Regions from separate parts of the Homo sapiens genome. Here region 2 is linked to region 1. The links come from fine-mapping of genetic effects on plasma protein levels. Region 1 holds a variant in brackets. A gene starts in the other region. All regions are shown on their reverse strands. Region 1 holds the start of MUC3A (mucin 3A, cell surface associated). Region 2 holds the start of CDH17 (cadherin 17).

The links. PIP is the chance, under the fine-mapping model, that this variant and not a neighbour inherited with it causes the effect. The UK Biobank Pharma Proteomics Project read protein levels with antibody pairs (Olink). The fine-mapping took linkage between variants from a reference panel, not from the people measured, so its PIPs are less certain.
Region 2: CDH17 starts here. The variant in region 1 is fine-mapped to the plasma level of the CDH17 protein (UK Biobank, PIP above 0.99).

Annotation. Positions count from the first base shown.
Region 1 is chr7:100,937,387-100,953,434 of GRCh38, reverse strand. MUC3A (mucin 3A, cell surface associated) reads right to left here and starts at 3,901. Exons shown (of 12, transcript NM_005960.2): 1 at 3,750-3,901; 2 at 1-1,594. The coding sequence starts at 3,810. It overlaps LOC105375431 (a long non-coding RNA gene), which reads left to right. Exons shown (of 3, transcript XR_007060457.1): 2 at 6,684-6,868; 3 at 11,099-11,376. RefSeq lists enhancers at 1,809-2,354, 2,405-3,383, 3,384-4,362, 9,285-9,834. The variant A/C (reference allele first, on the strand shown) is at 4,609.
Region 2 is chr8:94,198,181-94,214,228 of GRCh38, reverse strand. CDH17 (cadherin 17) reads left to right here and starts at 5,674. Exons shown (of 18, transcript NM_004063.4): 1 at 5,674-5,746. It also overlaps the pseudogene RPL6P23. RefSeq lists an enhancer at 6,948-8,147.

The DNA of each region.
Region 1 (16,048 bases):
ATACTCTCTGTGTGAGTGGTCCCAGCACTGCTGGCAGACATGGAAGATGAAAATGAATATGTTGCTGGGAAGGTCGTCAGGAGGGAACTTGTAGGAGTGCTGAGTGTACTTACAAAAGTTGGTCTCACATTGGGAGTAGTGGCAGAGGTCATGCTGACAAGGGATGAGGTTTCTGTATTCTGAATGCTGGGGGAAGATGGAATGACACTCGTGGACATTGCTGAGGAACTGGAAACCGTGAATGTTGATGTGAGGTCTGTTGCTGTAGTCAGGAAACCGGTAGAGCCCACAGAATGGTGGGTGATAGTTGTTGGTGTTGTGAAAGGGATGTCTGTACTCAGAGAAGATGGGGTCATGGTTGTGGAAGTCACCATAGTACCTGAGGTAGGGGGAAGTGAGGAGATGGCAGTTGTGGATGTGCTGACTGTGGAGTAGATGGTTGATGAAGAGAAGCTGGGAGTACTGTGGGAGGAGATCTCAGTGGTGGTGGTTACCAAGTTTGTCATAGGAGTCGTGGCTGTTTCTGTGGTTGGGAGAGAGGAAGAGGTGGGTGGGAGAGAAGTCTCTGTGGACAATGTACCTGTCATACTTGTGGAGTAGGCGATTTTGGTAGTGGAGTCTGTGACAGTGCTGGTGGGAGAAGTAGTGTAGGTGGTCTCAGATGTAGGTGTAGACCTGCTGATGGTAGTGGGGAGTGTGGTCACCAAGGTGGATAGGGGGGTGGTGTTTGTGATACCACTGGTGATTGTTTCTGTGCTCAGGACAGGTGTGGAAGATAAAATGGTCCTAGTGGGTGATGACAATGTATTAGTGGCTGTGGGCTGGGAGGCGGTCGTTGTCATAGAAGTCACTGTATTTGTGGAAGTGATTGAAGAAGTGATGGGGGAAGTGGAAGTCACTGCTGTTTTGAGAGTAGTAAATACTGGGGTTGGGGACGTGGTTGTATGGATGCTTCCAGTGGGCAGGGGAGTCCTTTCTGTGGTTCTAGTTGTAGACGAGATTGTAGTGTGGAAGGTTGTGTCTGTGGCTGACACAGAGGAGGGTGTCACTGTCACTATGGGAGTTTCCCTTGCAGTGGTGGTAGAGGGAGAAGATGTCATGGCTGACGTTCCTTTCTCAGTAGTGGTCATAGAGTAAGTACTGGTGACGGTGGTCACTGGCTTCTGTGTCACGGGAGTCGAGGTGTAAGAGCTGGTGAAGGCCACCTGCGTCGTGGTCACACAGATGGAGGTGGGGTGGGAGATGGTGATTATAAAGCTCGTTGGATACACGCACTCAGTGGTGGCTGAATAGACCAACACGGTGGGTGGAGTGGTTTCAACCTTGAAGGCAAACTTGGACGTCGGGGTGGTTGAGGTGTTGGAACTGACTGGAGAGTTGAGCAATGTTTCAGAGATGAGTGTGTCATGGGGGGAGGTAGTGAGTGTCATAGGTGCATTTTCCCTGTGGCCAGGAGCAGGAGAGGCGAGCTGGGGGACACCAAGTGGCCACCCAGCCAGGTCTCTGGAGTGTGGAGAATTGCTGAGCACAGCGCTGGCTGCTTCTGCTCTGGGGAAAGGCACTTGAGAGATGGATGTGGCCGTGGATAAAGTTCCTGCATTGGCGGCAGAGCAGAGGAATCCACTGGTAAATCCGTGGGTCATTTTGTTACATCACTCATGTAAGCTACTCACTCACCCATTTTCCAGGCAGCATCACAGAGGGCAGGGCATATTACAGCTGACTCCTGCATCAGAGGCAGCTTGGAGCTGGGTGCTTTGTGGTGCTGGAGACGACTGCCTGTCTGCTCCTAGGGGAGCAGTGGGGCATGGGAGCCCTCATTCCTCACCGGGCCTTGGCCTTGTCATGGCAGGTCCTCCTGTCCTGATATAGCCGAGCTGGGCAGAGCCTCCCTCCCCTCCCTTCCCTCCTCTGGTCACACCCAGGCTCCTCCTCCCTCTGCCCCTTCCTCTCCTCCCCCTGCTACTGCCTGGAGTGCTCCCATCCCCCCATTAACCTTCTGCTCCCACCACTGCTTCTCCCGGCACCCTGCTGCTGTCTGGGCTGACTCCGCTTTCAAAGAGAAAAAGAGAGAACCCAGCCATGTCCTGGCAGGGGGCGCATCACAAAAACCAGGAGACAGGGAAAGCTGAACAAAGAGGGCCAGGCACGGTGGCTCATGCCTGTAATCCCAGCACTTTGAAAGGCCAAGGCAGGAGATCACTTGAGGTCAGGAGTTCGAGACCAGTCTGACCAACATGGTGAAACCCTTTCTCTACTAAAACAAAATACAAAAATTAGCCAGGCGTAGTGGCGTGTACCTGTAGCTGAGGCAGGAGAATCGCTTGAACCCAGGAAGCAGAGGCTGCAGTGAGCTGAGATGGTGCCACTGCACTCCAGCCTGGGTGACAGAGCAAGACTCCATCAAAAACAAAAACAAAAACAAAAACAAAAAACTGCCCAGAGAACACCAAAGAGAAACAGGCTAAGCTCACACACTAATGACTTCAAAGGGCATGGAGTGAGGACTAGGTGAAGAGGCAGAGAGACAGCATAGAAAAGGAAACTTCCAGAAGGAGCTACCTCAGCAGTCAGGCGTGATGAGTTCTGGAGACCTTAAGGCTTAGCAGTGAGTGTTCATCACACAAATAGACATATTTTTCTATACTATTCCCTTTTGGCCGTGGGATTCATTAGTTTACAAGCATGAACCCCAGCATGTGGATTTCAACCCATTTCACAATTTGTCAGAGTTAGGATCAGAGATCCGGCTGTCGGGGGTGTCAGGGACAAGGAAGACAGGCAGCCACAGCAGATGGGAAGTGGGAGGTACCCGACCTGCTACCCCTCACCTCGGGCACAGCCCATCTTGTGGCTGAGAGCTGGGGTGTCACGTCTCAACCTAGCTCGTGGGTGCCAGGGAAGTGGGGTCAGGGATTATGAGAATCCCCAGGCTACAGCCCTTGGCTCCAGGATGTGGCCCTGGAGGTGACTGAGAAGGGGACTCATGGGCCTGTAGGCTGGGTGGCCTGGGATCGGGGATCAGAAGCAGACACTGAAGTACAGAGAAAAGAGAAGTATAGAGGAATTGCGAGGTGTTCCTGCAGGGCAGAAGAGAGAAGCCTGGGACCCCACGACGGGTAGTCTCAGACGCACCCTTGGAAGCGAAGTGGACATCAGGAGCTCCCTGCCCCGGCCCTGGTACCAACAGCTGTACCCAGACACATGGGCCCTGGCCGGGGTAAGAGAGTGACGGCAGAGCTGGGGAGGAGCCGCCGGGGGACAAAAGGCAGAGAGGCTGAAACCAGAGGACCGAGACCAGGGGTAGAAGTTAGAGGGCTGTCAGGGAGGGAGAGGCCAGTGTGAAGGGGACACTCAAGCTGGGGGCGTGAGGCAGGTGACAGAAGGAGTCAAGACAGGAAGGGCACTGCTCTGGGAAGACGTAAATCCCACCCTCTACCCTCCAGCTGCAGATACAGATTGGGGCTCAGCCGCTGCAACCTGCTCAGTGCTTGGTGGAGAGTGGCAGAGACCCAGCTCCCTCACTCTTTCCCAACCTCGGTTTTCCCTGCACCTGGAGCTCTGGAAGAAACCTCTCCTCACCGCCCCCTCCCCCAGTCAGGCCGTGCCTCGGTTCTCCCTGCACCCAGAGCCCCAAGCGGTGCCTTCTTATCCCCCCTCCCCAGGCCTTACAGCCACTTTTCCCTCCCCTTTCCTGGAACATCACATCAGGAGCTTTTCTCCAACCCCCTTCCGCCTCTCCCCCTTACCTGTGGCCCACGGGGAGGCCTTGAGCATCCAGAGGAGGCCGAGGAGCCCCAACAGCTGCATGGGCCCAGCGGGCAGGGGGCTGGGGCAGAACAGGCTTCAGGACCAAGACAGCGGCAGGGACGTGGCCCTGGGGCGTGCACGTAATGAAAGTGCTGGTTATCGGTTTTGCTGAGCGTCAGGGCTGAGCACAGCCTCACCTTTGCACCGCCCCACCTCTCCCCTCTTCCTCCCTTCTCCCTGCACCCGGACAGACAGACGTCAGCGCTGTGGGAAGCGGGACACGGGGGAAAAAGATAGGACAAGTCCAGGAAGTGTCAGGCAGGAAGAGCTGCTATTGGCTCAGCCCCACAGCCTGCCTGGCCCACATGGAACTGCCTGGAAGCTGCCCTTCCTCCCCGACACCCGTGGAGGGTACCCTTGACCGAGGGCTTGGACTCTGGAGTCTGGTCCTACTCCTGCAGCCTCTCCTGAGTTTCAATTCCTCCTGCTGGGGAGACAGTGGCACCTCGCTCTCCTTCAAGCCCCTTCTGTCCCTCAGTCTGCCCCTGCTCCATCCTGTCCCCCGCAGGACCCCATAGGCCAGAAAAAACCGTGGGAGTAATTAACACAGAATTCCATCTGAAGTCATTTTATTATCTGAAGAGTTGGGGCTAGGTCCCAGAAAAGGAAACATGGATGACCAAAGGAAACACTCAAAAATACTAGTCTGGGCCCGGCGCGGTGGCTCACGCCTGTATTCCCAGCACTTTGCAAGGCTGAGGGGTGTGGATCACTTGAGGTCACGAGTTCGAGACCAGCCTGGGCAAAATGGCAAAACCCCATCTCTACTAATAGGCTGAGGCAGAAAAATCGCTTGAA[A/C]CCAGAAGGTGGAGGGTGCAGTGAGCCAAGAGCACACCACTACACTCCAGCCTGAGCAACAGAGCGAGACTCCATCTCAAAAAAAAAAAAAAAAAAAAAAAACTGGTTTGGACCCAGCACATTGTTTGACCTATCCAGTTTGGGCAAAGGTGTGAAGAATAAACGTTCTTACCCAGCTGGTGGATGTGTAGGTGGGTTGGGTTGTTTTAAAAGAGTAATTTGAGGATCACTTGAGGTCAGGGGTTCGAGACTAGACTGGCCAACATAGTGAAACCCCATCTCTACTAAAAATACAAAAATTAGCCTGGCGTGGGGTGGGCACCTGTAATCCCACCTACTTGGGAGGCTGAGGCAGGAGAATTGCTTGAACCCCAGAGGCAGAGGTTGCAATGAGCTGAGATCGTGCCTCTGCACTCCAGCCTGGGCAACAGAGCGACACTTCATTTCAAAAACAAGATAAAGTAAAACAAATGTTCTTATCCAGCTGGTGGGTGTGTAGGTGGGTTGGGTTGCTTTAAAGGGGTAATTTGGTGGCATCTATTAAAATTTTAAATGAGTGCCTTAGGACCCAGCAATTTCACCCTCCATCTCTGTGTCCAAGAAACCCTTCAAGGCAGCATTCATGAGGATGTTTATTGACTCTCGATTATGGCAATTTTGATGGAAATTGGAAACAGCCCAAACGATTGTTTCAACCCAGAAAGAAGATGGAATAGTCACCCTACAGAACACTGTGCTCAGGCCAGATTCAGTGGCTTACGCCTGTAATTCCAGCACTTTGGGAGGCCGGGGCAGGAGGATCTCTTGAGCCCAAATGTTCCAGGCCAGCCTGGGCAACATGCCAAGACCCCATCTCTACCAAAAAAAAAAAAAAAACACAAAAAAAATTAGCCAGGCATAGTGGTGTGCCCCTGTGGTCTCAGCTACTTGGTAGGCCAAGATGGGAGGATCACCTGAGCCCAGGAGGTCAAGGCTCCAAAGAGTCATGATCGAGCCACTGCACTCCAGCCTAGGTGACAAAGCAAAAACCTGTCTCAAAAAAAAAAAATTATGAATATAAAATTAGGTCAGGGCCAGGCACAGTGGCTCACATCTGTCATCCCAGCACTTTGGGAGGCCGAGGTGGGCGGATCACTTGATGTCAGGAGTTTGAGACAAGCCTGACCAACATGGCGAAACCCCGTCTCTACTAAAAATACAAAGATTAGCCGGGCATGATAGTGCACTCCTGTAATCCCAGCTACTCAGGAGGCTGAGGCAGGAGAATTGCTTGAACCCAGGGGGTGAGGGTTGTAGTAAGCCAAGATCCCGCCACTGCACTCTGGCCTAGGTGACAGAGTGAGACTCCGTCTCAAAAAAAAATTATAAAATAAAATTAGGTCAGACCAGGCACAGTAGCTCACACCTGTAATCCCAACACTTTGGGAGATCAAGGCGGGATAATCACTTGAGGCTAGGAGCTCAAGACCACCCTGGGCAATATAGCGAGACCCATCTCTACAAAAAAAAAAAAAAGATAAAAAGAAAAATAGATCTAAATAGGTCTGACCATCCCTAAGGGAAGAAGCTTTGCGGAGAGAAACTGCAGCTCTTCCTCTTCCCAGCAGGCCCAAGGGACAGGATTGCAAAGGCAGCCAGCGAACTCTCTGAGGCCAGGCCCGCTGGGAGATCTTCGTGAGGGGCTGTGCCTCTCATGTCTCCTGGGGGACCTTGTCCTTATCGAGAGTCACTGAAGGGACCCTAAATAAGAGGCGCTGTGCATACCCACCAAGTGACACTGCCTGCGCATCGGTTGTGCAAATGGCTGCACCAAAATCCAGGGGACACATTGTATAGCCCTGGCCTCAGTGTGTGTGGTCAAGTTGAGGAAGTGAGCAAAGAAATGAAAAGCTAAAGAGTCCAAATGAGGTGGAGCTCAGAGCCCGACAATGACACCACTGGGGGTAACTCAGGGGAGGGGCCAACAGGGAGCAGGGCTACTCTTGGGGTCTTCCACTTCAATTTCTTAATACATTTGATCAAGTTGCCCAGCATGAAGATACTCGTTTGCAAAAAGTTTTGTTGTTGTTTTTCAGAGCAGTCTCTGTGGAAACTGCTGAGCCACATGGTCAAGCACCACAGCCAGCCAAGACGCTGCAAACCAAGCTGGAGGTTTCGGGGGTTTCCAGTCTTTTTTTTTTTTTTTTTTAAGTATCAAACACCATAAAATTCCCATCACTGTTCTGGAGACACAGACGTAAATGGAAAATGGATTCCTGTTGTAAGTAAAGATCACCAGGCTCCTGGGGAGATGGATCCCAGATCTACCCCCATCCACCACCCCTTCTGTCCATCACCTCTCTAATACCCACACCCCCTTCTGCTCCAGCCACCAGACCCCCAACCTCAGCCTCTGCTCCACTCCAGGCCCTTGCCTGAGCCATTCCTACACCTGCAGTGCCCTCCTGCTCCTCCGCTTTCTCTCACCTGTGAAAATCCCACCTTTCCTTTACAGTTCTACACCTTCCTCACCTCCTCCAGGAAGTCATGTGCAATCAGGAAGTGACCTTTTCCAGTCCTGGAATTTTTTTTGTTTTTTGTTTTTTTTGAGGTGGAGTCTCACTCCGTCGTCCAGGCTGAAGTGCAATGGAGTGATCCCGGCTCACTGCAACCTCTGCCTATGGGTTCAGGAGAGTCTCCTGCCTCAACCTCCCAAGTAGCAGGGGTTACAGGCATATGTGCCACCATACCTGGCTAATTTTTTTGTGTATTTTTAGTAAAGATGGGGTTTCACCATATTGGCCAGGCTGGTCTCAAACTCCTGCCCTCCAGTAATCCTCCCACCTTGGCCTCCCAAAGTGCTGTGATTACAGGTGTGAGCCACCACATCTGGCCCACTCCTGAAATTAATGGTGCTCATTACTGAAATCTCTCCCATGATGCAAACTTACTATCTCCTAGCTGGGAGCACAGTCATTTGAACGCCTGCCCAGAAGGGAGAGGGAAAGGTGACATCTTTGCATTCTGAATGGGGACAAGTGGCCACTTTCCCTGCAGAGCCTGGGTAGGAGCCCCGCCCCACTCAGGGAGGTGATGGATGAGCTAAGACTGCAGGAATCCTCTGTCTGCGGTTTGAGAATGCCCCATGCCCACATTGGGGTCCAGCTTTCGTGGGGAAGCTGGAGAAGATGGAAGAGAAAAGAGTGTTCTATTGGGGTTGGGAGACATGGCTGTAATGTCAGATGCTGCTGACTGTAGGCTGCCCACACACAACTGAGACTGGGAGCTGGCTCCAGAAATTAATCAGATTCCAGCCAGAGCTCAAGACAGGCAAGAGGATTGCTGGGGAGAAGGAAGGAGCAGAGCTGTGGGAAGACTATGCTGACGATGGCAGTGTCGGCCCAATCATCAGTGACACTTGCCATCGGGTCCCTTCCTAGTGACACTGAAATGGAATGCACAGGAAGTCAGTGGGGGGCACTGGTCTCCCTCCAAGGTCACTTTTGTCACAGGTACCTGGGGGAAGACGTGAATCCAGAAACGTACAGGCCGGGACCAGCCCCCAAATATCAAGGATTAGGGAGGGACATGTTGAAACTAGGGCTATGGGCTGGACACAGTAGCTCACGCCTGTAATTCCAGTACTTTGGGAGGTCTAGCTGGACAGATCACCTGAGGTCAGGAGTGTGAGACCAGCCTGGCCAACATAGAGAAACCCCGTCTCTACTAAAAATACAAAAATTAGCTGAACAGGGTGACGCACCTGTGTAGTCCCAGTTACTAGGGAGGCTCTGGGACAAGAATCGCTTGAACCCAGGAGGTGGAGGCTGCAGTGAGCCAAGATCATGCCACTGCACTCCAGCCTGGGCAACAGAATGAGACTGTCTCAAAAAAAAAAAAAAGGAAACTAGGGCTGGGGAATAGGTCAGTCTTTCTCCCAGGAGGAGTGAGTGAGGCAGGAGGAGGTTGGGAAGGTTGGCCACTGTGTGATTATGTGAATTGCAGCTACAGTTGTCCCGATAATATCAGCTGATGGGAGTCCAGGGACCCACAAGAGTTGTCTCTGAAGTCATGGTGGCTAGGGTAGGGGGAATCAGCTTGCTTGATGGGTAGATGACAAGCTGATACTTGGCTTTAAGAGTAAAGTTCCTCGGCTGGGAGAAGTGGCTTACGCCTATAATCCCAGCACTTTGGGAGGCCGAGGTGGGTAGATCACCTGAGGTCAGGAGTTCGAGACCAGCCTGACCAACATGGTGAACCCTATCTCTACTAAAATATAAAAATTAGCCAGGCGTGGTGGCAGGCGCCTGTAATCTCAGCTACTCAGGAGGCTGAGGCAGGAGAATCACTTGAACCCAGGAGGTAGAGGTTGCATTGAGCCAAGATCATGCCACTGTGCTCCAACCTGTACAAGACGGAGCAAAACTCCATCTCAAAAAAAAAAAAAGCAAAAAAGGGTAAAGTCTCTCAAAGCCAGCGAGTTTGGTGTAGCAGTCAGAAAGTGTCAGGTTATGCTGCAGTAACAAACAGTCCTAAAGGCTATATGGCTTACAACAGCAAAGGTGTATTTCTTGCTCATGCCGCTTGCCCATTTCAATGTCTGTGCTCTCATCCATGCCATGTTCACTCTGGGACCTGGGCTGGCCAAACCACCCCCGTCTGGGACATTGCCAGTCTCATGGTGGTAGAGGGTGACAGATGGCAAAACCACCAGCTGGCTCTTGAAGCTTCTTTCCAGAGACGATGTGCGTCCCTTCCACCCAAATTTTATTGGCCAAAGCAAGTCACAAGGTCGCCCTGGATATAAAATACTATCAGAGAGAGGCACTGCCAGTCAGACATCAAGCGTGATATCAGCGAGACAGGGAGGTATGATCTACCCAAGGGAGAGAAAGCAAATATTTTCAACAATAACACAATCTACCACAGCTGGGATCCCAGCAGGGGTATGGTTTATGCAAATCAAGATCCCATCAAGCAGGATCAGACCCCTGGTGGGGCCTTGTGTGCCACACAAAGAGATCTCGCCACTGCACTCCAGCCCAGGTGGGCGACAGAGTGAGACTGTGTCTCAAAAAATAAAAATAAATAAAATTTAAAAACCACCTAAAAATTCCAAAGGAAAATTTAGGAGACTATATGTATAATTTGGGAGCTGAGGAGACTATTTTAATCAAAACAAGAAAGCTGAAAGCTGTAAAAATAAAATTACACATATCCTACTACATTAAAAAGTAACATTTTGTGGGGGAAAGTTATCAAAACAATACAAAGTAGTGGCAGAATTGTTTGCAATCTGAATGACAGACAAAGGGTTAATATATGTAATATACAAACAGCATTTACAAATGTATATTTTAAAAACACACTGTTCAACCTGATATTCATGGACATTGTATATTAAATGCCTCTTAAGATACTTTCAGGATCACAGTATAATTTTATTGGGTTTTGGAGTCCTATAGTATGTTTATGATACTGGAATCATAGGCAAAATGTTTTTCAATAAATTTTTTCAAACTTCTGTTTTCGGCCAAGCATGGTGGCTCACGTCTGTAATTCCAGCACTTTGGGAGGCCGAGATGGGTGGATCACTTGAAGTCAGGAGTTCAAGACCAGCCTGGTCAATATGGCGAAACCCCCGTCTCTACTAAAAATACAAGAATTAGCCAGGTATGGGGGGTGCACGCCTGTAATCCCAGCTACTTGGTAGGCTAAGGCAGGATAATCCCTTGAACCCTAGAGGCAGAAGCTGCAGTGAGCCCAGATCGTGCCACTGCACTCCAGCCTGGGCAACAGAGTGAGACTCCATCCCAAAAAAAGAAAAAATCTCATGTTTTCATGTGAAGTTTGTTCCATGTGAAGTTTATTTTTCTTCAATCAGTTTCTCTCTTTCCTTCTCTTTCTGTCCTTCCTTGCCTGTTTCATGCGAGCATCATTATTCCTAAGATAAAATCAAATGCTTAATTCACACTTGCACAAAATCTCCAGAAACCTAAGGTCACACAGGGACATTTCAGAAAGCAGCCAGTACTATTTTTCACGTTCTTTTTGGCAGTTTCATTTATGGCCGCTGCTTTAATGCAGTTTTGAAGAATTCATCACACCCTTTATGATTGAATGCAAACACCCAAGCTTGAGAAGAGAAGGAAGAGAGGGAGAGAGCAAGAGCCTGCCAGTTTCTGTTTGCAATATGCTATCGTTTCTGATTCTAAGGAGGAAAAATAACCTCATAAATTTAAATATGGAACATATCCTCTTAGAAAGAATGCTCACATTAAGAGTAATAAATGTCAACATTTATGGATTTATGGGGTTTTAAAAACAACTCAAAGCTTGTGCAAACATTTCTCATATGGTCATTGTTTTCCGAGGATTGCGTAAACGGAAGCCCAGGTCAGCTTGAGGATTTTTCTGGAGGTTCAGCGAAGTCATATCAAATCAGGGAAATGGGATCTTGCCTTTCTCTGATTAATTTAATTTCTTCTGTCTCCTCTTGTCTTCTTCCTAGAGTCTGGTGCATCTGAAAGTTCTGTGAACACTAGCCTGCCACATTCAGTGGATCTGGAGGCAACTATCGCCCTCCTATAAATACCAAGGGTGCCACTGGCCTGCTCCTTACACCAGACAGTAAACAGTCACCAAGAGCCTGATTGAAGCTTTGGGACAAAACAATGAAACCAAAAGATGGATTTGCTGAGTAGCGGAGACCGTAAACTGCTACTCTCAGTTTATTTATTTATTTATTTTTAATTTTTTTTTTTTTTTGAGATGGAGTCTCACTCTGCCGCCCAGGCTGGAGTGCAGTGGTGTAATCTCAGCTCACTGCAGCCTCCGCTTCCCAGGTTCCATCAATTCTCCTGCCTCAGCCTCCCGAGTAGCTGAGATTACAGGCCCATGCCACCACGACCTGCTAATTTTTGTATTTTAAACCATGTTGGCCTGGCTGGTCTTGAACTCCTGACCTCAGGTGACCCAACTGCCTCAGCCTCCCAAAGTGCTGGGATTACAGGAGTGAGCCACTGCACCCAGCCGTCTCTGTGTTTTAAAAAATAAAATAATAATAAATACATTATTTTTAGGCCAGGTGCAGTGACTCATGCCTGTAATCCCAGCACTTTAGGAGGCCAAGGTGAGTGGATCACTTGAAGTCAGGAGTTCAAGACCAGCCTGGCCAACATGGCGAAACGCGGTCTCTACTAAAAATACAAAAAAAAAATTAGCTAGGTGTAGTGGCTCACACCTGTAATCCCAGCTACTTGGGAGGCTGAGGCAGAAGAATTGCTTGAACCCAGGAGGCAGAGGTTGCAGTGAGCTGAGATTGTGCCATTGCACTTCAGCCTGGGAAACGGAGGAAGACTCTATCTCAAAAAATAAATAAATAAAATAAAAAATAAATATATTATTGTTAAAACTGGTTTTCCACCATTGGTGATCTTAAAGTGTGTGCTTAAAACTTTTATTTTAATGATATTATTCTTGAATTGCAAGCCCAGATATCTATAGCATGATTGGTCTTAGTGAATTTATTGAGGTGTACGTTTTATTTAAAAGTATGTGGTGGCTCACGCCTGTCATCCCAGCACTTTGGGAAGCTGAAGAGGGTGGATCACAAGGTCAGGAGATCAAGAACATCCTGGCTAACGTGGTGAAACCCCATCTCTACTAAAAATACAAAAAATTAGCCAGACGTGATGGCAGGCGCCTGTAGTCCCAGCTACTCAGGAGGCTGAGGCAGGAGAATGGCATGAGCCCGGGAGGCAGAGCTGGCAGTGAGCCGAGATTGCACCACTGCACTCTAGCCTGGGTGACAGAGCAAGACTCCATCTCAAAAAAAGAAAATGAATAAAAAGACAAGAAAATGTGGCACATATATACCATGGAATACTATGCAGCCATAAAAAAGGATGAGTTCATGTCCTTTGCAGGGACATGGATGAAGCTGGAAACCATCATTCTTAGCAAACTATCGCAAGGACAGAAAGCCAAACACTGCATGTTCCCACTCATAGGTGGGAATTGAACAATGAGAACACTTGGTCACAGGGCAGGAACATCGCACACTGGACTTTGTTGGGGGCTGGCGGGCTGGGGGAGGGATGGCATTAGGAGAAATACCTAATGTAAATGACGAGTTGATGGGTGCAGCAAACCAGCATGGCACATGTATACCTATGTAACAAACCTTCATGTTGTGCACATGTATCCTAGAATTTAAAGTATAATAAAAAAAATCATACCACGGTCTTTCCTATAGAAAGATCTAAGCTTGCTAATATGACTGAATTGCTTTACTATTGAATTCCAGCAAACACTTAAGGAAGAAATCATACCAACTGTACACAAACTCTTTCAGAAAATGGAACACTTCCCAACTTTGTTTATGAGCCCAGCATTATTCTGATACCAAACCAAGACAAATACATTACAAGAAAACTAGACCGATAGCCCTAATGAATATAGACACAAAAATCCTCAAGGAAATATTATGAAATAAAACATAGCAATACATAAAAATAATGCATCATGACCAAGTGGGGTTAATCCCAGGGATACAAAGCTGGTTAAACATTTGAAAATGAATCAATGTAATTTCTTATGTCAACAGTCTAAAGATGAGAAACCACATGATCATTTCCATAGATGCAGGAAAAGCATTTGACAAAATCTGACGTCCATTACTGATAAAAGCTCTCCGAAAACTAGTAAATAGAAGGAACTTCCTCAACCTATTAAAGGACAGCTACAAAAAAGAAAAAAAAAATCAGCAAAGTATCTTAGTCTGTTCAGGCTGCTGCAACAAAATACTGTAAACTGGGTAGTTTATAAACAACAGACATTTATTCTCATAGTTCTAGAGGCTGGGAAGTCCAAGATCAAGGCAGATTTTGTGTCTAGTGAGATCCTGCTTTCTGGCTTATAGACAGTTCCTTCTTTCTGTGTCTTCACATGGTAGAAGGGCAAGGGTCTTTCTAGGTCTCCTTTTTTTTTTTTTTTTTTTTTTTTTCCTGAGACAGAGTCTCACTGTGTCACCCAGGCAGGCTTGGGGCTCACTGCGACCTCTTCCTCCCAGGATCAATGATTCTCCTGCCTCAGCCTCCCAAGTAGCTGGGACTACAGTCATGTGCCACCATGCCCTGCTAGTTTTTGTACTTTTAGTAGAGATGTATTTCACCATGTTGGCCAGGCTGGTCTCGAACTCCTGACCTCAAGTGATCCACCTACCTCAGCCTCCCGAAGTGCTGGGATTATGGGTATGACCTTATCTGGCCTCTGGGTCTCTTTCATAAGGGCACTAATCCCATTCATGAGGGCTCCACCACCATGGCCTAATCACCTCCTGATATGGTTTGGGTCTGTGTCCCCACCCAAATCTCATGTTAAAATGTAATCCCCAGTGCTGGAGGTGGGGCCTGGTGAGAGGTGATTGGATCATGGAGGTGAATCCTTCATAAATGGTTTAACACCATCCCCTTGGTGCTATTCTTGTGGTAGAGTTTTCATGAGCTCTGGTTGTTTAAAAGTGTGTGGCACCTCCCCACTCTCTCTCTTCCTCCTGCTCTGGCTGTGTGAAGACACCTGCTCAGGCTTTGCCTTCTGCCATGAGTAAAAGCTCCCTGAGGCCTCCCCAGCCATGCTTCCTGCATGGCCTGCAGAACCCTAAGCCAATTAAACATATATATGACCCAGTCTCAGTTCCTTCTTTTTTTTTTTTTTTTTTTTTGAGACAGAGTCTTGCTCTGTCATCCAGGCTGGAGTGCAGTGGTGCGATCTTGGCTCACTGCAACCTCCACCTCCCGGGTTCAAGTGATTCTCCTGCCTCAGCCTCCCGAGTAGCTGGGATTACAGGTGTGTGTCACCACTGCCAGCTAATTTTTGCATTTTTTAGTAGAGAGGGGTTTCACCATGTTTGCCAGGCTGGTCTCGAACTTCTGGCCTCAAGTGATTCACCCACCTCGGACTCCCGAAGTGTCAGTTATTTCTTTATAACAATGTGAGAACAGACTAAAACACCTCCTAAAGGCCCCACCTCCTGATATCATCACCTTGGGGGTTAAGATGGCAACATATATGGATTTCGGGGAGCCACAAACATTCAGACCATGGCACTAAGTACATCTATAAAGCTAAGGTCATTAATAGGTTTTTTTTATATGTTTATTTGTTTATTTTGAAACGGAGTCTCGCTCTGTCACCAGCCTGCAGTGCAGTGGCACAATCTCACCTCACTGCAACCTCTGCCTCCCAGATTCAAGTGATTCTCCTTCCTCAGCCTCCCAAGTAGCTGGGATTACAGGTACATGCCACCACACCCAGCTAATTTTGGTATTTTTAGTAGAGATGGGGTTTCACCATGTTGTCCAGGATGGTCTCGATCTCCTGACCTGGTGATCTGCCCACCTCGGCCTCCAAAAGTGCTGGGATTACAGGTGTGAGCCACCATACCCGGCCAATCATTAATAGGTTTTGGAGGGCGATTCTTTGTTATGTCAAGACGAATCTTTCAGCTGGGCACAGTGGCTCACACTTGTAATCCTAACACTTTGGGAGACGGGAGGATCACTTGAGCCCAGGAGTTCAAGACCAGCCTGGGCAACATAGTGAGACACTGTTTTAAAAAAAAAAAATCACTGTGATTAAATGCAGCAGTGCAGAATTGCTTTTGGTTTACTATTTTGACAAGAGCCATCCACTGGTCTCATCCTAACATTTCTTATTCTATAGGTTAGGAAGTCAGTGTGGGAATTCTGCAGGGTGGTGAGGATATTAATCTCAATTTTACACTTAGATATTAGGAAAGTGACCATAGGAAGTTTGTGGGCACAGGGGCCTATAGTGAGGCAAAGTCAGGGTATAACTACATTTATCAGGGCTTTTGTTAAAAAGTCAAGAAAGGTCGGGCATGGTGGCTGACACCCATAATCCCAGCACTTTGGGAGGCTGACGCTGGCAGATCACTCGAGGTCAGGAGTTTGAGACCAGCCTGGCCCCCGTCTCTACTAAAAACACAAAAAAATTAGTCGGGCATGGTGGCACACACCTGTAATCCTGGCTACCCGGAAGGCTGAGTCAGGAGAATCACTTGAACCCGGGAAGCAGAGGTTGCAGTGAGCTGAGATGGCCCCACTGCACTCCAGCCTGGGCGACAGAGTGCGACTCCACCTCAAAAAAAAAAAAAAAAAAAAAAGTCAAAAAAAAAGACCAGGTATAGTGGCTCATGCCTGAAATCTCAGCACTTTGGGAGGCAGAGGCTAGAGGATCCCTTGAGGTCAGAAGTTGGAGACCGGCCTGGGCAACATAGTGAGACCTCATCTCTACCAAAAAAAAAAAAATTTTAAATTATCTGTGTGTGTTGGTGTAGTGTGTGCCTATAGTCACAGCTACTAAGGAAGCTGAGGCAGGAGGATTGCTTGAGCCCAGGAGTCTGAGACTGCAGTGAGCCATGATCATGCCACTCCAC
Region 2 (16,048 bases), not on the chromosome of region 1:
AGGCAGTCACTGCACACTGTCTGGCTAAGTGGTGATGACCACCAGGGCTAACATGAAGGGGTAGTGTTCTAGGAGGCGTATGTTTTGGAGAATTAAAACAGTACAGTTCACTATGGCTGTGTGGAGTTTGTTGTGCACATGGGACACCTTGGCGAAGTTGTGGAATAGTCAGTTGGATATAGAAAACCAGAGCTTTGACCAGAGGAGAGATCTGGTCTAGAGAGAGACTCGAGATGTTGGCAAGTAGATGGGAGCAGAGTTGACCTCCACAGAGTGAGTGACAGGACAGGATAACCTGGGATTGGGCCCAAGGAGTTGGATGAGTCACAAGTAGGACTGCAAGGGACTAGCTCAAGAGGTGGAAGGAAAATCAGAGTATTGGCAAGGAAGCCGGGGTAAAGGGAAATTTGAGGAGAGCTCGCCATGGTGTTGAAAGTTGTGAGAGGTCAGGTGAGGTGCAGACTGAAAAGCGTCCATCTGATTATCATGAGGAGGTTGTTGGCAACCTCGGTGAGGGTGGTTTCAGTGGAGCAGTGAAGATGGAAGCCAGACACTGTGATCTGAGCATGAGCTGGATGGGAGCAAAAGCTTGTTAGGTGAAATCTGATAAGAGACAGAGATAGGTCTCAGAAAACCAATAAGAATGATGGTCATTTCTTGGAATTTAAAGAAAATCCAAGATCAAATAAAAAGCTTAGCTGTCTGAGAAAAAAATGTCTGAGGGAAGATGAGCATGCTCATGTCTACCAGATCCAGCTTGCATGTTCAACATCAGACCGACTGCATCATTATCTCAGACATTCCTGCAGAAATGGGTTCTACATGGTGGGGTAATTAATCTCAATTCAGAATAGGCTTTGCTGAAGAATATTTACTGGAGGATAAAGCAATGATTCCTTAAGCTAGTGTTTCTCAGAAGGGCCTATGTAATCACCTGCATCAGAAATCCAGAGTGCCAGCCAGGCATGGTGGCTCACATCTGTAATACCAGCACTTTGGGAGACCGAGGCAGGAGAATCACTTGAGCTCAGGAGTTCAAGAGCAGCCTGAGCAACATAGAACCTATCTCTACAAAAAATTTTAAAATTAGCTGGTGTGGTGGCACTTGCCTGTAGTCCTAGCTACTTTGGAGGCTGAGGCAGGAGGATTACTTACGCCCAGGAAGTCGAGGCTGCAGTGAGCCATGATTACATGCTGCAGTCTAGCTTGGGCAACAGAGCAAGGGACCCAGGGACATACCCTGAACCAGGATTTCATAGTGTAAGCCCCAGTTTTAGTGAACTTCAGTTTGGAAAGACCTGGAAGGCATTTGTCCAATGTACAACTGATGATGTGAATACTTACTAGCCATCCCATTCATGAGATTCTCCAGCCACTTCATGGCATGCGTAGCTGGAGCCAGATTGAGGGCCCCGCCTGCTGGGCAGTTGCTTGGAGCCAGCATCTATAGATGAAGTTAAAAATCTTCCTGGAATAAACAAAGTACAAAGTGGGTCCACTTCTGTCAGAGTAGATAGTGGGGAAGAAAATCTTTACTAACCTCAAACTATCTTCCTTAAATATTTTTCAGAATATCGCAAGGTGGCTGTCAGCTAAGATTTTTAAACAGCATTATGTATGATTCAGTGTTTCTTACTTAGAACTAGTGATTCATTTTGTTATCTAAGTTTTAAATCTTGTGATAATTCTCTCAAGTGTTCTGGTTTGGAAAACTGCCAAAAAAAAAAAACTCAACAACAGAGAAGCCTCCAAACAAAAACCCCAAACCCAAACTCAGAAGTAAGTATAGGCCAGGCGCAGTGCCTTACACTTGTATTCCCAGCATTTTAAGAGGCTGAGGTGGGCAGATCTTAGACCCCAGGAGTTGGAGTCCAGCCTGGATGGATGAAACCCCATCTCTACAAAAAAAATGGGATATGGTGGTGTGTGCCTGTAGTCCCAGCTACTTGGGAGGCTTAGGTGGGAGGATGGCTTGAGCCTGAAGGGCCAAGGCTGCGGTGAGCCGAGATCGCACCACTGCACTCCAGCCTGTCAGCCTGTGACAGAGCGAGACCCTGTCTCCAAAAAAGTAAGAGCTACATGGAAGTAAGACCTGTTTTGCTTAAATTTATCAGAAAATGGACTCTGTCCTGGCCAGCAAAAGTAGTTAAGAAAGATTCTGCTTCAGCCTAAAACAATGACTAGCAGAAAATTAGTTTCACTTCATTCCACTAAATAAATGTGGAACAAAAACTGTGAACTCTAGGTTTCAGGGGGTTCAAAATTATTTGCTTTTCTGGGTTCCTATTGGCCTTGGTTGAGCCTGCAGGTAATCATGACTATTTAGAATTATTGAATTAAATAACTGAATGGAGTTGAGTCCTAAGAAGTACTTATTGAGTACTAATTGAAGACAAAGTTTCTGCCATCATCAAGTTAACAGAGCAAGACAGATATTAAGTAATTAAAATATTATTTTACACTTCTGTTAGGTGAGGGTTGTGTGTTGATGGACTCATGATAAAATATTCTGAATGTGTAGTATGTAACACATAAAGAACATAAAATGCAAGTACTTGAAAAATTGAGAAATTTACCACTCATAGATTTCATTTTGAGTTTTAAAGAATAAAAATAGGCCAGGAGCAGTGGCTCATGCCTGTAATCCCAGCACTTTGGGAGGCCAAGGCAGGCAGATCACCTGAGGTCAGGAGCTCAAGACCAGACTGGCCAACATGGTTAAACCCCGTCTCTACTAAAAATATAAAAAATTAGCCGGGTGTGGTGGTGGGCACCTGTAATCCCAGCTACATGGGAGGCTGAGGCAGGAGAATCACTTGAAACTGGGAGGCGGAGGTTGCAGTGAGCTGAGATTGTGCCATTGCACTCCAGCCTTGGGGACATCAAGACTCCATCTCAAAAAATAAATAAAATAAAATAAAAAAGAATATAAATATTAGAAATGTAACATGCTTTGACTTTTAGGAATAATTCCAAGTTTTCATAACTTTTTTGTCTGGGAGGCTATCTAGACTTTCTTACAAATGTCCATAAATTAATTACTTATTTATGGACATTTGTATTTTCTAGGGATAATATTGGAGGAATGCTTAAAACATTATAGACAAAAGCGTTGAAATGTTTTCACCACCATGAAGCTGTGAGTTGAAAGCATTAGCCCAAGTCCTTTCACTTGTTCAGTTTTGTTTTCTTTTTTTTTTTTTTTTTTGAGATGCAGTCTTGCTCTGTCGGCTAGGCTGGAGTGCAGTGGTGCAATCTCGGCTCAATGCAACCTCCACCTCCCAGGTTCAAATGATTCTCCTGAGTCAGCCTCCTGAGTAGCTGGGATTACAGGCACCTGCCACCACACCTGGCTAATTTTTGCATTTTTAGTAGAGATGAGGTTTCACCATGTTGGACAGGCTGGTCTCAAACTCCTGACCTCAGGTAATCTGCCTGCCTCAGCCTCCCAAAGTGCTGGGATTACAGGTGTGAGCCACTGCGCCTGGCCTTCAGTTGTTTTCATCCTATAAATCATACCTCCTTTGCTTTGGAAAATTAAATCAGTAATATTTATCAATTACATTTTCCTTATTCCTATTATTAGCAAGTCTATTGAACCAGCAATGTCTCACTTTTCATGAAAATGAGTTCCTAAAATGCAGTGGTGGCTACCTGAAACGTGCACATTCTTAACATTTGGATTTAATCTGGAAGGATGTCTAAACCATGTAAGGAATATATGAACAGCTCTCAGAATCTTGTTAACCTGGTATCCCACAGTACAGAAATAGCTTCTGTAATTCAGAAATGCAATAATCACCTGTTAATTTCTCTGATGGGTGGTTTAGGCATTTTCAGTGTTTAATTAACCTAATTCTTTGAGCTGGAAGCTGGGGGCTAGAGATAGCAAGTGATGTACAGAGGAACCCCATTTCGGAACTTGGCCATCTTCCAACAGGAATGGGCTCATGCAGGGATTTCTGCCCTTGGACTTTTTTTTTTTTTTTTTTTTTTTTTTTTACTCGCATAAAGCTGGAAGGAAAAAAATCTGGCAGAGTCTATAGCTGTAGTGAATAGGATGGGATTTGAATCAGAACAGGGTTGCAGTCCCGATTCTGTAGTCAAAGGCTGTGTGACTTAGACAAGAAATAAAACCTCTCTGTGTCCCCATTTTCTGTCTATAAACTGGAATCTACTTTGCAGACATGCTAAATGAGAAAACAGAATTTTAATTGATATACCAACATGTCACGATCATTGTTATTGTTGCTGAAAAACAATGACTATAAATGATACATATGCACTTTATTTTTGAAAAAAAAAAACTCATAAATTTAAAAGCACTTTATTATTTTAAAATTTTCAAAGAAGACCCAAACTTCTTTATGAACAATGCTGTGTGATGAGATGCTTGCCCTTGATTCCAGGAACTGAAACATGTGGCAAGTGGAAGCGATTTGATTTTGTAGAACAAGCACACTTTATTCAGCTAATGGGAGGGCAGAGGTGTGAAGAATGTGAGAAGTGCTTAGCCTCAATAACCTCATTCTTCTAAATGAGTGATGCTGGCTGTGGGACAAAGCAAGAAGGGCCTTTGCTGAACCCACCAGTCCACCAAGGATGTTAACAGCTGGCATGCAACTAGATGGTTTCACTTGCAGGGTCCTCAGGATAAATGAGGTCTATTCCCACAGTGGCTTAGAGCACTCATGAAACCTTCTCATGAAATCTGGAAAGGAGGGAGCCCTTCTAGAGAGTGGGCTGGGCTCTCTTGCTTTCCCTCTGTCAGATGCACACCTGGAGAGGAATGGAAAACACAACCTCAGCTCAGGAGAAGCCAAGAAATGAACATGAGAAGGTCCACAGAAACAGGGCCAAGTGTAACACACCAGACACAGACATGACATTGATGCTCACCTTCAGTGTGGATTCCCAGAGTGACCAAAGTGTGGAAATCAGGAATTGGTCTAAAAGAAGCCTTGACTTGAGAAATCTGGGGGCATTGGCTTTTATTGGTTAATCAAAAACCTCATTTTGATTGGGGAAAAATAAGTTGTTCCTAGGTAAATCCATTCCCTGAATTGTGGGGGGGAAAAAAGGACTTGGTTTGTGTTTGGGGGAAATTTGCTATCGGTTGTTTCTTGCAGACTTTGGAAGGGACCCTTGGATTTCAAAAGCAGGCACAGCCATATTGTGTCTTTCCTCATGTCTTCTGAGTCATTTATGATATCTCATGTGGCTGGTTATCAATGAACTGTGTCATTGCTCAGACATGGCGCCCCTGCTCCGTCTTTTGTGTTTGAGATGGAATCTACATAAATATTTGCTGATCAAGTCTCCTGTGCTAAGTGTTGGGGGTACAAAATATGGAAAGTCTTTGATGTCATGAACCTCACACTCTAGAGATAGTTGGATACACAAAAACTTTTCCACTCTAACTTCTTGTCTTTTCATTGACTCATCTACATTGAAAAATGTAGCAACCTGTTTTGAGATGGATTAGATGTAAGTTAAACTTCTTTTGATACAAAGTCATTTCTTTCCTGGAGTAAAAGTAATGACACTTTTTATGATACCCAGTGGCTCTCGAAGAGCAATAAAAAATGTTAATGGTTAATGTTTGACTGAAGCTGAAGGGAGAGGCTGGGAGGCAAAGCAGGGAAGAGGGAGTGTTCCCGGGGGAGATACTCCAGTCGTAGCAAGAGTCTCGACCACTGAATGGAAGAAAAGGACTTTTAACCACCATTTTGTGACTTACAGAAAGGTAAGGGCTGACATGTCTTAACTGTGTCAGTAACGTATTTATTCCAGAAGGACAAAGTAGATGGAGGGGGAGGGCACTTAAAAAGTTGCTTGACAAATTTGTTCCTTGAGGTGGGCTATGCAGATGCGGAGAAGGGAAATTTGTTGCTGGCATGACAAGTTTTGCTTATGGAGCACAATTTTTTTTTGTAGTTTCTTTTCATTGGTCCATATTTTATAAATTCATTTGATGAAGTGGCTGCAGTGAAATCAAGCTTGGCAGTGGAATTAAAGGGGAAATTGAGTTCTCTGATGTTTAAACAAGTATCACATCCATTCTTTGTGATGAGTATATAAAAGTCCCTGGTCTTAAGATGCTCTAGGGCTCTTGTATTCTAGAAATTGGGGTTGGAATCACATTCTCAAAAAGCATGTCATTCTATCTACTTCTCAGAGAATGAGATTCAATTTGGGATTCTTAGAATTGTCTAGGACACAGCAAGGGAGGGAACATGCAGAGAAGAAGAAAAGTCTTTTTGTAAAAGTACTAGAATAAGAATTGAAGACAGACAGACCTGCCTTCACAAGTGAGAGAAGAGGCTGATGTGCGTGTTAATCAGCTTCCTGGGCTGCTTTTGGCCTTGGTGGTGGAGTTACCACCTGCTAATGTGTGGTTATTTTTATGTTAAGCCACACACAGCTTATTGGTATCTTCAATGGTCCGATATTTGCCTCTGTCTTGGTCTTTTATGACAGGTGACTTTATAGGGACAGATGCCCTCTGTGGTAGGGGATGCCAAGCAGCAGATTGGAAGGACAGTGCCTTCTCTAATATTTTCTTGTCTTTATTTTTCTTCAAAAGCTTAAATAGCAAATGAGGCATTATTTGAAAGAAGAAGAAAAAACACATGTTTAGATGAAAGGAAGATGAATGCTATTCAGCTCTCACCAGGAAACAAAGCGAGTCCTTTACTGAGAGAGGGTTTCTAGTGAGTTACGGGGCCATATGAGTCTTCAGGGTTGGCCAAATGGGTTAGGCCAGTTTCATCATTTTCCAACCTGTGGGCACAGAACAGAGAGCTGCCACTAGAGACTTGCCTAACTAGGTAGTTGTGAGAAGTAAATTAGATAAGTAGGTAAAGAGCTTACTATGTTGCTTGGTGCATGGTACACATCCAGTGAATGTTAGCGCTCTGTTCCATGAGAAAGTTCAAGTAGGTGACTCAGGATGAATTGAGAAATTTTTGTTTCATTCTTTAGAAAAATAAGAAAAAAATCAGTGATGCCATAAAAATAGCATCTACCATTATGCAAGAGAGGAACTAATTCTATGTTCAGGAAGTAGGATTCAAAAATATGAGAATAATAAAACTATTGGTTTTGCTATATATATAGCATTTTAAAGCCCCTCTCATGGTTCCCATATAAGTCTTTGGGTGAGGTGCAGGTGGGGCATCCTTTGAAACTCACCCAGATGACCCCTGAAAAAAGTCATCACTGTTCAAGGTGAAGGTTACATTTCCGGTACCTCCTCCTTTCTCATACAAAAGGCAAAATATGGCTGGGTGTGGTGGGTCATTCCTGTAATTCCAGTACTTTGAGAAGCTGAGGAGGGAGAACCGCTTGTGCTGGAGTTCAAGACCAGCCTGGAAGGTCTGAACATAGGGAGATCCAGACTGTACAAGAAAATTAAAAATTAGCCAGGCATGATGGCACTTACCTATAGTCCTAGCGACTTGGGAGGCTGAGGTGAGAGGATTCCTTAAGCCCAGGAGGTTGAGGCTGCAGTGAGTCATGATTGTGCCACTGCATTCCAGCCTGGGTGACAGAGTGAGAACCTGTCTCAAAAAAAAAAAAAAAAAAAATCTGGATGATGTGCAAAATATATCCTGGCAGAAACTCTACTTCTCGTTCCATTGTCAAAAAAAATGTCTAGAAGGATGTGTCCCTCATTTTTCTTCCACATTAACAGCAACAGCTCTGAGGAGGAAAGCTGGGCATTGTCATGCTCCTTGCTCTGGAGGCCGACAAACAGTGCTTGAACAGAAGCTGGTTCACATGGGTAGAGATGTATAGATTTGACATAAAATTGCATTGATTCAGAAATCTCTGGTATCAGATTTAGAATGGGGCTAGTTGTTCTGTAACTGCTCGTTGATTATCCAAAGAAAGACACACGGAATTTTAAGGGAATACCTATCTACTTATTTGTTACTTGTAAGAACAGACAGGAAGAAGAAGGAATGTTTACTTAGGTACAAGAAATATTAACTTAATAAAAGCAGATATTCCCCTAGTGGCTGAGGTATTAACTACACTAAAGTTGATTTTTTTTTTTCACTTAAGCAATACGTAACAAGCTAAGCTATGCTTGATTTTTGTGTATGTGGTACAAAGAAAATTTCTCTTCAAATATTCTGTAAGACTGACATGGAATTCTCTCATTCATGATATTTCTGAGTTATTCATTTTTGACCATATACTTATTACTTAAAAATATTAGGACTTGTTCTTAAGTGACGGATGAGGAGAATGGAAATGGTAGATTTGTTCCCTTAACATCTAAGCTAAAGATGAGTTCTCTTCCTCACCAAGAGGCCATCTAGCAGAGTGGCTTGGTGCTTGGCCCCTGCATTCACACCACTTCCTCAAGCGCTCTAAGCATCAGTTTCCTGCTCTGTGGGATAACAACAGGACCCACATTATATGATTGTGTTGTTCAAGTAAGTTGTCCAAAGTGTTTAACTTAGCTTGCATTTGTTGAGCATTTGCTATTTTTTAAAACAATTCCAATGATTAAAAAAAAAAACAATTCATGAATGAGATTTCATCGTGGTCTGGCACCTTTTATTAAGCAGAATTAAATTTATTTTCCCTTCCTCTCCTACCCATCCCAGTTGTCAGTTACGATTTAATTACAGAAATTGGAAAGTGAACCTGCCATACTTAAGCATGACTGCACATTCTTGGCATTAAAATTCCTGCCTTGGGTCACTTTGCAAATGAACTGGTATTAGAGTATTTTTCTTTCTCTTCTCTTCTCTTTTCTTTCTTTCTTTCGATCCTTCAGTGTCTAAATCCTATGGGATGGAACCTAATTTAGATTTACTTCCTACTGAATTTCTAAGGCCAGGATGTGTTGCTTTATTATCTTGACAAAATGCTCATCCGTAAACTTTATATTACATAAAGAAATGTTGTGTAATACATAAAGAAACACTTTGTCAAAAAAAAGTCAAGCCACCCTTTATGAGAAATAGTGATTCCAGTCCTCCTCTTTAGTCCAGGGAAGATGCTTGTGATATTGTTCTGCTAGATCTGGGGGAGAAAGGGTCTCCCCCTGCCACCTTCTAGGGTTTTTGCGGGTATATAGCTGCACACGTGAGGGAAGTCAATGCTGAAATTCTTCCTGGCTACCTGCTTAAAACCCATTTATGCCTAGTGTTCCATTATTGGAACACTAAGCATGTGGGAGTTATTTATATCCTTCTGCACAAGGTCATCGTCAAGGTCTGATTGCAAAAATTCAAAAAATTGCAACCTCAGGTATAAATGGGTTACAACATCAGGCAAGTGCCCTGGTGGGACAGTCACTGTTGTCCCTAGGTCAGTGGCTCCCTTTCCTGTGACTGCTCTGGCCCCCCTTCCATTCAATGCTGGGATGTTTTGGGAGACTTGGAGGAGAGGCCTCTTCTCCCCAGCTGATCCTTCCCTTGCTCTGTCTTGGGGAGCACTGGGGGAACAAACGCCAACCAGGAACAACATGACACCTCTCTCAAATATTTCTTGGAACTTGTTATTCTTTTCTTTAATAAGAATAATTATGCTAGTAATCCCATTACTGGGTATATACCCAAAGGATTATAAATCATTCTACTATAAAGACACATGTACACGTGTGTTTATTGCAGCACTATTTACAATAGCAAAGACTTGGAGCCAACCAAAATGCCCATCAATGATAGACTGGATTAAGAAAATGTGGCACATATACACCATGGAATACTATGCAGCCATAAAAAAGAATGATTTCATGTCCTTTTCAGGGACATGGATGAAGCTGGGAACCATCATTCTCAGCAAACTAACACAGGAACAGAAAACCAAACTCTGCATGTTCTCACTCATAAGGGGGAGTTAACAATGAGAACACATGACACAGGGGAACATCACACATCGGGGCCTGTCCTGGGGTGGGAGGCAAGCGGAGGGAGAGTATTAGGACAAATCCCTAATGCATGTGGGGCTAAAACCTAAATGACGGGTTGATGGGTGCAGCAAACCACCATGGCACGTCTATACCTATATAACAAACCTGCATGTTCTGCACATGTATCCCAGAACTTAAAGTAAAATTTTTAAAAAAAGAAAAAGTGAGACAAACATTTTTTAAAAAAAGAATAATTATGCTAGTAATGTGTATTATAATTGATTATATCAATCTAAACCATTTTAAGTTCTCCAGGGGACCATTTAGCCTCCCGTGAGCCCATCTTCCCTATCATGAACCTATTGGTAGAACAAATCATCACCTCTAATTTTGCATGTGTGTAAATCCAGATTTTCATATACTGAAAGATTGGCATATCTATATTACAGAGTTTAGTGACAGAAAGCTGGGCTTATGTTTATGTATGTATGTTCATCCCTCCCTCCCTCCTTTCCTTCCTTCTTCCCTGTCTTCCTCTCTGCTCTAAAAACAAATCATCCAGCTGCCCATTCCCTCCCCATGTGGAGTAATCTGTTTGAAGTGTGAGGCAGAAGCCCAGATTTATACCTGTCTGCTTGTTTCTAGCTTATTAATGGCCACTTTAATTGGGTCCTTAATTTGTCAAAAGTGCAAATTGGTCAGATGCTTCTGCGGTTCTCTAAACCTTGAGTGATGCAATTGGTGCCAGAGATCTGTGAGCCAGACCAAAAAGATGGGCGTGGCAGATCTGAACATTAATCGATGAAAAATGGTTTGGGCGAGATTTTCATCTGATCTTTATATCTATCTGGCCTTGCCTTATAATTTATGCCGCTCTTAGCAATATACAGTGAGGAGGAAAAATAAATGGCTCACAGGATATTTGGCACTGTTTGGTCCTGGTGGTGTTATGAATTCCAGTCACATCCCTTCCTGCCCACACTACCTTAGGATATTTGAAAACAAATTCTGTAGCTCTCTCCTTCTGCAACTTCTTTGTTCTTTGAAGCTTCATGGCTCAGCCTTAGTGCTAGGTGAATTATTTTAATTCAAAGCCCTTCATGCTTTTTAAAAAATAAATAAATAAGAGATGACTGACTCTAAGATTTGTCTATCACTTAGCTTTTTTCACGGGGGACAAAAATCAATGCTTATGTGTTGACTTGTAAATCTGGAGATCTGGGACGTAGAAACTCCTTGTCCTTACTCAAATAAATGGGTAAATGACAAGAGCGTCTAAACATCACCTTCCCATCTTGCAAGATGGTGGGTGAAAAAGTTGAGAAGCCGGATACTAAGGAGAAGAAACCTGAAGCTAACAAGGCTTTGCCAGTGGCAAGGTGAAAAGGGGAACCTCAGAGCTAAAAAGCCCAAGAAGGGGAAGCCCAAAATCCTGTCCTCATTGGAGGAATTGGCAGATATTCCTGATCTGCTATGTATTCCAGAAAGGCCATGTACGAGAGGAGGTACTTAGCTGCTAAACCCAAGATTGAAAAGAATCTCGCAACCGTTACAAACCCAGTTGAGGTGACAAGAATGGTGATGCCTGGCTATTTAAACTTCACAAAATGCCTTGATATTATCCAACAGAGATGTGCCTCAAAAGCTGTCCAGCCATCGCAAGAAACTCTGCAGTCAGCATGTGAGAAAACTTGGAGCCAGCACGGCCCTCGAGACCATTCTGCTCATCCTCCCTTGGTGCCACCAAGGCAGGAGGGTGGTTTTCCTGGAGCAGCTGGGCAGTAGCTTGTTACTTGTGGCTGGACCTCTGGTCTTCCATGGAGTTCCTCTGTGAAGGACACACCAGAAATTTGTCATCACCACCTCCATAAAAATTGATATCAGGACTGGGTGCAGTGGCTCACACCTATAATCCCAGCACTCTGGGAGGTCAAGGTGGGTGGATCACTTGAGGCCAGGAGTTCGAGACCAACCTGGCCAACATGGCGAAACCTCCGTCTCCATTAAAAATACAAAAATTAGCCGGGTATGGTGGCACACACCTGTAATCCCAGCTACTTGAGAGGCTGAGGCATGAGAATCACTTGAACCTGGGAGCTGGAGGTTGCAGTGAGCTGAGATGGCGTCATTGCACTCCAGCCTGGGCATCAGAGCAAGACTGTCTCAAAAAAAAAAAAAAAATCGATACCAGCAGTGTGAGAAACCCAAAACATCTTACCAATGCCTACTTTAAGAAGCAGTTGTGGAAGCCTAGTCAGTAGGAGGGTGAGATCTTTGACAGAAAAAGAGAAATGTAAGACTACAAAGCAGTGCAAGGCTGATCAGAAAACCATGGACTGGCAAATTTTACCAAAACTCAAAGCTATTCCTCAGCTCCAGGGCTACCTGCAATCTGTGTGTGCCCTGGTGAATGGAATTTATCCTCACAAATTGGTGTTCTAAATTTCTTAAGAAGAACCTAATTATGTAACTAAAAAAAAATAAATGAATGCCGTTAATCCCCTTGGGAGCTTGGAGCCTGGTGGGAGAATCAAGGAAGCCTTGGGTGGGCTGCTGGGATGCGGGGGGTCCCTAGGTGTCTAATGACTGAGCAGAGCCCCCTGTGAGGCCACCTCTGTCCTGGGACAGCAGCACAGGCTAAACAAAAGTTCCATGGGGTCTTCATTTGCTAGGGCTGCCTTAACAAAATACCACAGAACGGGAGGCTTAAACAGCAGATATTTACCATCTCAGTTCTGGTGACCAGAAGTCCAAAATCAAGAGGGCAGTAGGGTTGGTTCCTCCTGAGAGCTGTGAAGGAAGGATCTTCTGTGCACCTCTCTCCTTGGCTTGTAGATGGCTGTCTGTACATTCACACAGTGTTCTTTCTTTGTGGATGAGCCTGTCTCCAAATCTCTTCTTAGAAGGACATCAGTCATTGTGGATTAGAGCCCACTCTAACAACCTCATTTTAACTTCGTTACCTCTGTAAAGACTCCAAATAAAGTCACATTCTGAGGTGCTTGGAAGTTAGGACTCCAACATATGCTTTTTGAGGGGGAGGGAGACACAATTCTACCCATAGCATTTGGATTGATTTAAAAAAGGGAAGATTCCTAAGGTGAAGCACAGAAATGAGGAGAAATAGTGAGACACAGAGATACATTTGCAGTAGAAACAAAACTTCCCAGACCAAGGCAGCCTTTTCCTCCAGGCAGGTCGGGGCAGGTCATGTCAGCATCTGAAAAAAAGAGCAGCTGCAAAGTAGGGGGAAAAAACCTTTTCAACATTTTGGAAAGATCTGTAGTGGATTAAATGATACTTGGTGTCTCATCATCAGGATATTTGTGTTTCAGAGGGAGTGAAAATTAGCCTGGCATTGTGACCTTGGGCAAGTCTCTTAATTTCTGTGGTCTTCATCGTTTGATTTTTCATTTCATCTTTAAGAGGTATATTATAATAGCATCTGCTCCATAGAGTTGTTCTGAGAAATCAGCAAGATAGTTTTTCACCACCAAGTCTTATCGGTGCATGCAGCAAATTGTTTTCAGTCAATGTTTGCTGCCTTTGTCGTTATCCGGGCTGGATGCAGATCCAGGCCGCGGCGGGATTCCCATGTCTTCTGTTGTGTGGTAGATTAAAATGAGGCACTGTTCCTGCAGAGCAAGCCCAGCAGCCCTGGTTCCCGTCTGCAAGCAGGTGCCCTGGTCTACTGTTGAGCAAGTGGTGGTCATGGTGGTGCCCATTGGGTGAGGGGCAGCCACAGTTTGGGAACCGAGGCCTTCTTTTCAAAACTCCTTTTTTTGTAAAAAAAAAAAAAAAAAAAAAAAAAAAAAAACAAAAGATAATAATAATAACCCTCTGATCTATGTTGCAAAGGGTGTGCTTGGTCTCTCAAATAATTGCTGTAGTAACTGTCTGAATTTAGTCCTTGTATCTGAGGGAAATCCTGACAAACGGCAAAAATTCCACGCAGACGGTTGGCCAATTATTACAGGTAGTTCAGATAAAATGCCACAGAATCCTCTGGAAATCTATTTCAATTCTTTTCCAAGTAGTGTTTTTGAGGAAACCTAGGTGTCTGGCTTGGTGGTTTCGGGCAATTTCAGTGATGAAGGATGGCTTCCCATCAGCACCATTGCGACCCAGGGTACCCCACACTTGAATGGTATTGTGTCCATGGAAGGAGGAAGTGTAGGTGGGACCTGTTTGAGAGACCAAAGTCCTCTTTTGACATAATCCTAGCACTAGTGTAGTTTGCCTTGAATCATTCGGGTAAAGGCTTTGCCTTGCTGCCTCATTTGGCTGTGAGGATGTTCCTGTGTAGGCTGTTTTTAGAATATTTTCATTAGTGGGCCACCAAAAGTTGGGAATTGTGAAGAGAAATGTCCTGTTGGACAATGTTTACAGTTTTGACTAAGCAAACGTGAGTGGCAAAATGAATTTTTGGCCAACAGTATTCCAAATATTAACTCGCTGAATCTCTTAACTCTCGAAGGTAGGTATTATTATTATTATCCCTGCTTTATAGATGAGTAGATAGGGCCACGAGTCAGCCGGTGGAGGAGTTAAGACCCAAGCCAGCCAGTCTAACTCCTGGGTCTATGCTCCTAACAACCGCATGGTGTGGTAGATTTGTCTTCAAATAAATCATGGCACCCTACGTGTGGCAATGGAAAGCAGTGACTTCTACTTCCCACTGGAAACCCTCGGTGAGGGGCAGGCCTAAATGTAAATGACAAAATAAAGGATAAGTACATTTCTCCTTCTACTTCCTAGGTTCCATTGAAACATCCCAGACAGTGATCTCTCTGAGCATCTGACCAAAATAAGGCATTCCTTTTATTTTTATTTGCTTTTCTATCATTTAACTTGTGTTTTTCTGGAAGACTGAAGGTGTTAAAAAAAAAAAAATTAGTTCAAGAAGAGATGATCTAGTTCGACCAGTTCTGGGTTATTTACTGAGCAGAAATCTGTTAGTGTATTCAAAGGAGAAACAACTCTTTTCATCAACAATAAAAATGTATTACACAATAAAGCTTTGAATGTTGAATGAGTTTCCTTTAATATATCATGTTTATTGAAAGCTCTTACAGGTGAGAACAAATTAATAAGATATCCATGTTAGGTAATCATAAATGTTTTAGAATTTACCCAACATCTGATGATGGCTTGATATATGCAAGGGATAGTATGAAGAGACCTGATAAGTTAAAAATAAGGCCTCTGCCCTTAAGGATTTTATTTAATAGTGGCAGTAATGCTAACAGACAAATGATAAAAAAAAAAAAATATATATATATATATATATATATATATATATATATATATATATATCAATCAGAACTGGCTCTGAGAGGAAGAGACTGGCTGGAAATCAAGGAAGATTTCATGAAGGAAGTAGGGTTTAGGTCCTAGCTCCATGAAGATAGAACCTGTACCCCTTATTTTGGTACCCCAGTTCTTGGCACGGTATCTGGGACATACTAGAAGTGGTGTAGTTCATTGCTATTTAAATAATTAAGTTGAACTTAGATGGTAAGATGTGAGAAGCAGAAATGAGGAAACATCTCCATCCAACCTCATTAAGCAAATATCCATTGTCCATTTTCTCTGGGCCAGGCCTTGTGCCAGGCAGGGAGAGCAGCAGGGGTGAGAGCTTGGCTGCCAGAGAGCTCAGGGTGCAAAGTCCATCTGGGTGGAGGTGTGACTGGGTGTGGGAAGGGAGTGGCAGATAAGGCTGGAAGAGTTGGGAGCAGCATTTGAAAGATCTTGAATGCTGAGGAGTTTAAGGAGAAAGATCTCCCAATGTGTCATTATTGCCTATATTTTTACTTGTATTAAGCAAATACAGGTTGATAGCTGACCGTGTACATTTTGCTAATATTACAGAAAACTAGTTTGTTAGACTTAATTTATTCATTTATAATTGATAATATCATCTTGCAATATGCTAGAATCTGAGGTTGTTACTTGTTTCTATGTGTTTCCAAACCAAATAAGTACTCTAAAGCAGTAATGTCTTGTTTAACTATGAGTTAATTCTAAAATGATGTTTAGATATGTCAACCAAATTAATTATGTTGCAAAAGCTAATTTTTAAACATGCAAGGAATTTATGAATCTTGGAGTCCTGAAGGGTTTTAATCCTAGCTTTTCCTTAAAATAGTTGTGGAATTTCAGGGCAAGTTGCTT